2 separate regions of the Homo sapiens genome follow, and region 2 is linked to region 1. Evidence: fine-mapped expression QTL. Tissue or cell type: whole blood. Region 1 holds a variant in brackets; the other region holds the start of a gene. All regions are shown on one strand. Distances are between the middles of the regions.

Region 1 (5,193 bases):
ACTCTGCTGGGGGATTTCTTACCAACAGCTGCTTTTAATATAAAAGTAATAAAAGCCTTTATTATAGAAAAGTTATAATTACAGATATACAGAAAATAAAAATCACCCATAAACCCACTACCCAGAGACAGGCACCATTAACATGGGATATCAATTGTGAATTTTAGCCTATGCACACATATTTTGTAAATGGGATACACAAACTGCATACTGTTTGTATATGGTGGATTTTTACTTCAACTGTGTTGTCACATGAATATGAACATCTCCCTTATCCGCCAACAATTTTTTTCTTTTTTGAGATGGAGTTTCACTCTTATTGCCCAGGCTGGAGTGCAATGGCACAATCTCGGGTCACTGCAACTTCCACCTCCCGGGTTCAAGTGATTCTCCTGTCTCAGCCTCCCGAGTAGCTGGGATTACAGGCATGCGCCACCATGCCCGGCTAATTTTGTATTTTTAGTAAAGATGGGATTTTACCATATTGGTCAGGCTGGTCTCGAACTCCTGACCTCAGGTGATCCACCTGCCTCAGCCTCCCAAAGTGCTGGGATTACAGATGTGAGCCACTGCGCCTGGCCAGCCAACAAATTTTTTTTTCAGATGGAGTCTTGCTCTGTTGCCCAAGCTGGAGAGCAGTGGCGGGTTCAAGTGATTCTCCTGCCTCAGCCTCCCAAGTAGCTGGGACTACAGGTGCATGCCACCACACCTGCCTAATTTATGTATTTTTAGTAGAGACGGGGTTTTGCCATGTTGGTCAGTCTGGTGTTGAACTCCTGACCTCAGGTGATCCACCTGCCTCAGCCTCCCAAAGTGCTGGGATTACAAGCATGTGCCACCACACCCAGCCAACATATTTATATAACAAAAACTTTTTTTCATTTCAGATGGGCAATATGCCAACGTCCTAACATGGTTTGAGGGAGGCACATTTCACACATGAGCATGAAGACCTAATCATCACTCTTATAAACTACGAAAGGATCAAACAATAATTTTTATTTATTTATTTTTTCGAGATGGAGTCTTACTCTGTCGCCCAGGCTGGAGTGCAGTGCACAATCTTGGCTCACTGCAATCTCTGCCTCCTGAGTTCAAGTGATCCTCCTGCCTCAGCCCCCCTAGTGGCTGGGACTACAGGCACGTGCCACCATGCCAGGCTAATATTTGTATTTTTAGTAGAGACAGGGTTTCGCCATGTTGGCCAGGCTGGTCTCGAACTCCTGAGCTCAGGTGATCCACCTGCCTCGGCCTCCCAAAGTGCTGGGATTACAGGCGTGAGCCACCGTGCTCAGCCACAATATATATATATATATTTTAATTAAGACAGGGTCTCAGGCTGGGCGTGGTGGCTCACGCCTGTAATCCCAGCACTTTGGGAGGCTGAGGCAGGCAGATCATGAGGTCAGGAGTTTGAGACCAGCCTGGCCAACATGGCGAAACCCCATCTCTACTAAAAAATACAAAAATTAGCTGGCCACGGTGGCTCACACCTGTAATCCCAGCACTTTGGGAGGCTGAGGCAGGCGGATCACCTGAAGTCAGGAGTTCGAGACCAGCCTGGCCAACGTGGTGAAACCCTGTCTCTACTAAAAATACACAAATTAGCTGGGCATGGTGGCAGGCGCCTGTAGTCCCAGCTACCTGGGAGGCTGAGGCAGGAGAATTGCTGGAACCCAGGAGGTAGAGGTTGCAGTGAGCTGAGATCAAGCCACCGAACTCCAGCCTGGGTGACAGAGGGAGACTCTGTCACAAAGAAAAACAAAAACAAATACACAGGGTCTCACTTTGTTGCCAAGGCTGGAGTATAGCGGCATGATCACAGCTCACTGTGGCCTCCACCTCTCAGGCTCAAGCAAGCCTCCCAACTCAGCCTCCCCAGTAGCTGGGACAACAAGGCATGTACCACCACACCCAACTAATTTTTTTTTTTTTTTTTTTGAGACAGAGTCTCGCTCTGTCACCCAGGCTGGAGTTAAGTGGCACGATCTCGGCTCACTGCAAGCTCCACCTCCCAGGTTCACGCTATTCTGCCTCAGCCTCCCGAGTAGCTGGGACTACAGGCGCCCGCCACCCTGCCACGCTAAGTTTTTGTATTTTTAGTGGAGACGGGGTTTCACTGTGTTAGCCAGGATGGTCTCAATCTCCTGACCTCATGATCCGCCTGCGTCGGCCTCCCAAAGTGCTGGGATTATAGGCATGAGCCACCATGCCC[G/A]GCCCACAGTCAGCTAATTTGTATTTGTGTGTGTCTGTGTGTATGTGGTGACGGGGTCTCGCTGTGTTGCCCTTGCTATCCCCTAGCTCAAGTGATCCTCCTGCCTTGGTTTCCCAAAGTGCTGGGATTATAAGCATGAGCCATTGCACTAGGCCCAAAAATTGTTTAATAATGTTTCTTTTCTGATTACAAAAGATATCTAATGCTTAAGCCAGGTGTGGTGGCCCTCACCTGTAATCTCAGCACTTTGGAGGGCCGAGGAAGGCAGATCACTTAAGATCAGGAGTTCCAGACCAGCCTGGCCAACATGGTGAAACCCTATCTCTACTAAAACTACAAAAATTAGCCGGGCATACTGGCGGGTGCCTGTAGTCCCAGCTACTCCACTCCGGAGGCTAAGGCAGGAGAATTGCTTAAACTCGGGAGGTGGAGATTTCAGTGAGCTGAGATCGTGCCACTGCACTCCAGTCTGGGTGACGAAGCAAGACTCTGTGTCAAAACAAAACCAAAAACAAAAAAAAGATACCTAAATGCTTAAAAGATGAAAAAATTCAAGTGATACAAGAATGTATTAAATAGAGCGAAAGCCACTTACAATCTCACCTCTCCTCCTCTAGATGCAGCTGGTGTTAAGGCTCACTTTCATGACTGCTGACACCAGCATATGTTCAGTGTCCTCATCCAGGGAGAGGCCACTGTGTGGAGGACTCTGCTGGAGCTTGGAGGGAGTGGCCAAGGTCAAGGCTCTGCCCAGTGTGTGAAACAGCCCCCAGGGCCAAATAATTTAGGTTGCTGTTTCATCTTTTGCTCTCTCAAGCAATGCTTTGTTAATTATACTTAATTAGTTATCCTTATAATACATTTCTGTAAGTAGAGTTGTAGAATTTCAGGGGCAGTATGTGTGTGTGTATATTTTTTCTTTTCTTTTTTTTTGAGACAGAGTCTCTGTTGCTCAGGCTGGAGTGTAGTGGTGTGATCTCGGCTCACTACAACCTCTACCTCCCAGGTTCAAGCGATTCTCCTGCCTCAGTGTCCTGAGTAGCTGGGACTACAGGAGCATGCCACCACGCCTGGCTAATTTTTGTATTTTTAATAGAGACAAGATTTCACCATGTTGGCCAGGCTGGTCTGGAACTCCTCCTAGCCTCAAGTGACCTGCCCACCTGCCCCTTCTCTACAAAAAAATTTTTTTAGGCCGGCGCAGTGGCTCATGCCTATAATCCCAGCACTTTGGGAGGCCAAGGTGGGTGGATCACCTGAGGTCAGGAATTCAAGACCAGCCTGGCCAACATGGTGAAACCCGGTCTCTACTTAAAATACAAAAATTAGCTGAGTGTGCCGGTGGGCACCTGTAATCCCAGCTACTCAGGAGGCTGAGGCAGGAGAATCTCTTGAACCCAGGAGGCAGAGGTTGCAGTGAGCCGAGATGGTACCATTGCACTCCAACCTGGGTGACGAGAGTGAAACTCTGTCTCAAAAAAAAAAAATTTTTTTTTAATTAGCTGGGTGTGGTGCTATGCGTCTGTAGCCCCAGCTACTCGGAGGCCGAGGTGGGATGATTGCTTGAGCCTGGGAAGTGGAGGCTGCAGTCAGTGAACTAAGATTCTACCACTGCACTCTAGCCTGGGCAACAGAGGAGACCCTGTCTTAAAAAAAAAAAAAAAAAAAAGGAAAAGAAGAGAGAAAAAGAAGACTAGTTGGAGACTCCCAAATGAATTAATAAATCTGTCACAGAAATGGAAATCAAAATAAGAGGAAGTCACATTTCATCTCAAGAGCTTGGTGATACCCAGTGTTGCAAAGATAGGGAAGAGCACCCTCACACCCTGTCTACTGGTAAGGGATGAATCGTGCAACCTTTGTGAAGGGCAACCAGCAGAACCTGCCAAAATTCTAAATGCATCTATCTTTTGACCTAGCCATTCTGCAATTAGAACTGTTCTTAGAGGAAAAAGATATATCCTCACTTGTAAAATTTTTTTGAAAAAGGCCGGGCACAGTGGCTCATGCCTGTAATCCTCACACTTTGGGAGGCTGAGGCAGATGGATCACTTGAGGCAAGGAGTTCTGGACCATCCTGGCCAACATGGCGAAACTCCATCTCTACCAAAAATACAAAAATTAGCCGGGCGTGGTGGTGTGTGCCTGTAATCCCAGCTACTAGGGAGGCTGAGGCAGGAGGATTGCTTGAACCCAGAAGGTAGAGGTTGCAGTGAACCAAGATGGTGCCAGTGCACTCCAGCCTGGGTGACAAAGTGAGACTCTGTCTCAAAAAATAAATAAATAAAATAAAATTTAAACTGAAAAAAAGGCGGGGTGTGATGGCACATACCCAGAAATCCCAGCCACCTTGGAAGCTGAGGTGTGAAAAATTTCTTGAGCCCAGGAGTTCGAGGCTGCAGTGAGCTATGATGGCACCACTGTACTCCAGGCTGGGCAACAGAGAGACCGCGTCTTAAAAATAAATAAAAGGCCAGGCAAGGTGGCTCACACCTATAATCCCAGCACTTTGGGAGGCTGAGGCGGGTGGATCATCTGAGGTCAGGAGTTCAAGACCAGCCTGGCCAACATGGTGAAACCCTGTCTCTACTAAAATACAAAAATTAGCCAGGCATGATGGTGGGTGCCTGTAATCCCAGCTACTTGGGAGGCTGAGACGGGAGAATCGCTTGCACTGGAAGGTGGTTGCAGCGAGCCAGGATCATGCCACTGCACTCCAGCCTGGGTGATAAGAGTAAATGAGACTCCATCTCAAAAAAAAAATTTTTTTTTAATTGGCCAGATGTGGTGATGTGCGCCTGTAGTCCCAGCTACTCAGGAGGCTGAAGTAGGAGGATTGCTTCAGCCCAGGATTTTGAGGCTGCAATGAGCTATGGTCCAGCCTGGGCAACAGAATCAGACACTGTCTCAAAAAAAAAAAAAAAAAAACCCAAACAAATCAATAAGCAAATAAACCTGCAGACAGTACAAAGAAAACT
Region 2 (5,128 bases), 82 kb before region 1:
GGTTTGGCTCATATCATATGTTTAACTGGGGGAGCTGATAGGAATATATCATATAATAAAATACATATTTGGTGTTTGCCCCTGGTCCTTAGTAAAGAATTCCTAAAATCCTTGGAGTTTCTGGAAGATAGGCATGTCTTGTTAGTCACATGGAATCCCTCTGCACTGTACGATTACGGGGTCAGAACTTTTAGCCCATCGGGCCCCCTCCATCTCTGCCTCCATGGAGGTGTGAGGGACTAGACTTTGAGCCCAATCACATGGTCCATGTCTGTTTGTTATTGTTGTTTTGGGGGGATTTTTGTGTTTGTTTTTTCAAATGGCCAATGTCTTAATCAGTCATGCCTACAAAATAAACCTGTCAAAAATCACAACAAATTTAGTATAAGATCTAAGTTCGAGACCAGGCACGGTGGCTCACACCTGTAATCCCGGCACTTTGGGAGGCCGAGGCGGGTGGATCACGAGGTCAGGAGATCGAGACCATCCTGGCTAACACGGTGAAACCCTGTCTCTACTAAAAATATAAAAAATTAGCCGGGTGCAGTGGCGGGCACCTGTAGTCCCAGCTACTCGGGAAGCTGAGGCAGGAGAATGGCATGAACCCAGGAGGCGGAGCTTGCAGTGAGCGGAGATCACGCCACTGCACTCTAGCCTGGGCGACAGAGCAGAGCGAGACTGTCTCAAAAAAAAAAAAATCTAAGTTCGAGACCGGGCACGGTGGCTGACACCTGTAATTCCAGCACTTTGGGAGGCCGAGGCGGGTGGATCACCTGAGGTCGGGAGTTCAAGACCAACCTGACCAACATGGAGAATCCCGTCTCTACTAAAAATACAAAAATTAGCCGGGCTTGGTGGCAGGCGCCTGTAATCCCAGCTACTTGGGAGCTTGAGGCAGGAGAATTGCTTGAACCTGGGAGGCAGAGGTTGCAGTGAGCCGAGATCATGCCACTGCACTTCAGCCTGAGCAACAGAGTGAGACTAGATCTCAAAAAATAAAAGGCATTAATGGCTCAAGTCTATAATCTCAGCCCTTTGGGAAGCCAAGTTGGGAGGATTGCTTGAACCCTGGAGTCTGAGACCAGCCCTGGCAACATAGTGAGACACTATCTGTACAAAAAGAAAAAAAAAAATTAGTCGGGCATGGTGGCTCACACTTGTAGTCCCAACTAATATAGTCTGTTAATTAAAAGAGAACGAGGCCGGGCGTGGTGGCTCATGCCTGTAATCCCAGCATTTTGGGAAGCCGAGGTGGGCGGATCACCTGAGGTCAAGAGTTCGAGACCAGCCTGACCAACATAGAGAAACTCCATCTCTACTAAAAATACAAAATCAGCCAGGCGTGGTGGTGCATGCCTGTAATCCCAGCTACTCGGGAGGCTAAGGCAGGAGAATCGCTTGAACCCAGGAGTTGGAGGTTCCTGTGAGCTGAGATCGAGCCATTGCACTCCAGCCTGGGCAAGAAAAGCGAAACTCTGTCTCAAAAAAAAAAAAAAAAAAAAAAAAAAAAAAAAAAAAAGGCCGGGTGCAGTGGGTCACGCCTGTAATCCCAGCCCTTTGGGAGGCCGAGGCTGGAGGATCACTTATGGTCAGGAGTTCAACCAGGCTGGCCAACACGGGGCCAACATCAACACCATCTCTACTAAAAACACACACAAAAAAATTTGCTGGGCATGGTGGCACGCTCCTGTAATCCCAGCTTCTTGAAAGGCTGAGGCAGGAGAATTGCTTGAACCCAGGAGGTGGAGGTTGCAGTGAGCCGAGATCGCGCCATTGCACTCCAGCCTGGGCAATGAATCGAGACTCTGTCTCAAAAAAAAGAAAGAGTACGTGAACGAATCTATAAGAAACCTGGAGTAAATTATCTCATTTTCAGCTCTGAATCACACTACAGCTCAAGGCCCCAGGGTCCCCATGTATAAAGCCTTCCAGGAGCTAGGCGTGGTGCTGCGCACCTGTGGTTCCAGCTACTCGGGAGGCTAAGGTGGGAGGATCCCTTGAGCCCAGGAGCTCAAGCCTGCAGTGAGCTAGAATTGCTCCACTGCACTCCAGCCTCGGCAACATAGCGAGACCCTGTCTCAAAAAAAATTATTTTTAAACAAGTGAACTACTCAGAGGTCTGAGTGTTGTATTTGTCCCAACTCAGAGGGGGGCTCCGAGCCATCCAAAATTCAGCACAGTACCCGCGATGCCGCCTATTTGGACACCTACTCTGCCCAACCTACTCCAGCCCGCGTACCCCTGCAGCCCGTCGGGCGCCCAGGCCACGCCCCTGGGCGATATTGGCTCTCCGATTGGACAGCTTAATGGAGGTGTGGCCGGAAGAGGCGAGTCTCATTGGCAGAGGCGGGACCGACGGTGTGTGCGGAACATGGCGGAGCGCGGCAGGAAGCGGCCGTGCGGCCCGGTAAGTGCGGGCGGCGGGACCCCGTGCAGGGCAGCATGGTGGAGGCGTGAGAACCAGTGGCGTGGGGGCCTTCGCCGGGGCCGGGCCGCGCCTCCTGCTGCCTGCTTCCCGCTGATCCCAGGCCGGAAGCCCCCGAAGGTGCCGCGTGAGCCTCAGCAGGATGGGAACAGCGCCCGTGTCCTCTCCGGAACCCCCTGCGGCTCCCTGGCCCCCGCTGGATTACGGAGGCGGGACCCTGCTCGCCTCCGGATGCTGAATCCGGAGCCCTTTCGTGGCTTCTGGAGCCCTTTTCTGACTTCCAGGGCGACTGTGGGCAGTGCTGTACCCTGAGCCTCAGTTTTCTCTTCTGTTTTGTGGGAACTCATTCGACAGTTTCTTGAGTGCTTTCTGTGTGCCAGGCTGGGTCCCAGGCGCTGGGGATACAGCGGGTCCCTGCCCTCCTGCCGCTTTCTGGGGCAGCAGTTCGCAGAGGTTCCTTGGCTTCCTTGCCGCCCCGTGTGGAGGGGCTGGCTATGGTGCAGCAAACGGACCCCCTCCAGGTGTGACCATCAGCCTCACACTCATAATCCTCCTACCACTCCTTCTCCAGGGTGAACACGGCCAAAGGATTGAGTGGCGAAAATGGAAGCAACAGAGTAAGTAAGGGTGGGTAAGAGTATCTTCCCATAGGCCACTCCACCAGTGCTCAGTCAAACCCTGGAGAAAGACACCAACTTTGTTCCCTCTGGGTCCTGCAGCACACAAAGTGGGGAGGCAGGGGCCGGGAGCCCTGGGGAGGCTCCCTTGCTGCCCTCTGGCTGCTCACCCAGCAGCTCTCCAGAGTCCAGGCTGACCCAATGAGTGGGAACTGTCTCCTTGGCCAATTAGGATGTTCTTTTATCCAGAGAAAGAGGAGAAAAAAAAATGGAAGGATCTCAAGCTGATGAAAAAACTGGAGCGGCAGCGGGCACAGGAGGAACAGGCAAAGCGCCTGGAAGAGGAGGAGGCAGCGGCAGAGAAGGAGGACCGCGGTGAGCTGGGGTCTTGGGGAGGGCCACAGGTTGTGGCCCACGGTAGTTGTCCTGCAGGCAGAGCAGAGATGTCTTATCTGAAAGGGCCTTTACAGACCAGTAGGTCCAAACATCTTGTCCTGATGGAGAAACTGAGGCCCAGAGAAGGGAGGGAGCCAGCAAACTGAGTTCTGACCTCCTGCTTAGGTAAATTTCAAGCCTATGGAAGGCAAGCCTTATCTCTCTTTTTTTTTTTTTTTGAGATGGAGTCTTGCTCTGTTGCCCAGGCTGGAGTGCAACGGCGCCATCTCTGCTCACTGCAACCTCCACTGCCCAAGTTCAAGCAATTTTCCTCCCTCGGCCCCCCGAGTAGTTGGGATTACAGAAGTGTGCCACCACACCTGGCTAATTTTCGTATTTTTAGTAGAGACGTGGTTGCACCATGTTGGGGAGGCCGGTCTCGAACTCCTGACCTCAGGTGATCTGCCCACTTCAGCCTCCCAAAGTGCTGGGATTACAGGCATGAGCCACCGTGCCCGGCCCAAGCCTCATATCTCTTAACTTAGACCTCTAGAACTTCATGATCTTCCTGATTTTTTGACTTTTTTATTGAGCATTTTCTGTGTGCTTTAATTTCATTTTTCAATTATTTTGATTTCATAATAAAAATGAAAGAAAACTACAAAGAAGACAGGAACAATCCCAGCAAACATTGTAGCAAAAGCTTGTCCAAACAATTATAGCTACTTATCCATGTGTAGCAAAGTACAGATACAATGTTACAACAGTGAAACCATGTTATCTATGTGCTTCTTGGGCTTTTTTGTTTGTTTTTGAGACACAGTCTCGCTCTGTTGCCCAGGCTGGAGTGCAGTGGCTCGATCTCCGCTCACTGCAATCTCCACTTCCCAGTTCAATCGATTCTCCTGCCCCAGCCTCCGGAGTAGCTGGGATTACAGGCATGCGCCACCATGCCCAGCTAATTTTTGTATTTTTAGTAGAGACGGGGTTTCGCCATGTTGGCCAGGCTGGTCTTGAACTCCTGACCTCACTCAGGTGATCCGCCCGCCTTGGCCTCCCAAAGTGCTGGGATTACAGGCATGAGCCACCTTTTGTGTGACCTTGGGCCATGTATTTGACTTCCCGGGGCTGAAGGCCCCTGGTCTGTAAATGGGGATAATGGCAGTATCCTCACTAGGGATCAGGTTAATGGCTATCGGGTTAATGTGCACACACTAAAGACTTATTAGATATCAGCTTTCATTTTATCCCCATTTGATAGCTGGAGAACTGAGGCAGTAAGTGGGAGAGCCAGGATGTGAACTTAGGCCATTGCTACTAACCGCTCCACAGCCTCGCCCAGTGGTTTGCCCTGCTCAGAGGAGCCATGGAGACTGCTGGGAGACTGAGGCCCAGAGAGGGGAGCTGGATCTATTTTGCTCATCTCAAAATTCCTCCCACTTGGGAAATTCTCAAACCATGGGCGCTAGGGACAGAGGAAGGGAGAGAAAGGTAGGGGGCCCTTGCCTCTCACACTGGCTGGGAACATCCCTCCCCTGCTCAGGGCGGCCCTACACACTGAGCGTAGCCCTGCCGGGCTCCATCCTGGACAATGCTCAGTCGCCGGAGCTTCGCACCTACTTGGCCGGTCAGATTGCCAGAGCCTGTGCCATCTTCTGTGTGGATGAGATCGTGGTGTTTGATGAGGAGGGCCAGGATGCCAAGTAAGGGG

The links. PIP is the estimated chance that this variant, and not a neighbour inherited with it, causes the effect.
Region 2: it holds the start of SPOUT1, and the variant in region 1 is fine-mapped to the expression of SPOUT1 in whole blood (TOPMed, PIP 0.98).

Annotation. Positions count from the first base shown.
Region 1 is chr9:128,745,150-128,750,342 of GRCh38, reverse strand. The region is part of intron 8 of ZER1 (zyg-11 related cell cycle regulator); the gene reads left to right. It overlaps LOC124902340 (small nucleolar RNA U13), which reads right to left and starts at 985; the gene lies at 882-985. The variant G/A (reference allele first, on the strand shown) is at 2,216.
Region 2 is chr9:128,827,024-128,832,151 of GRCh38, reverse strand. SPOUT1 (SPOUT domain containing methyltransferase 1) reads left to right here and starts at 2,358. Exons shown (of 12, transcript NM_016390.4): 1 at 2,358-2,407; 2 at 2,997-3,042; 3 at 3,292-3,417; 4 at 4,961-5,120. The coding sequence starts at 2,372. KYAT1-SPOUT1 (KYAT1-SPOUT1 readthrough) reads left to right here. Exons shown (of 25, transcript NR_182311.1): 14 at 2,147-2,407; 15 at 2,997-3,042; 16 at 3,292-3,417; 17 at 4,961-5,120. RefSeq lists silencers at 1,407-1,630, 2,447-2,626 and enhancers at 2,107-2,166, 2,964-3,894.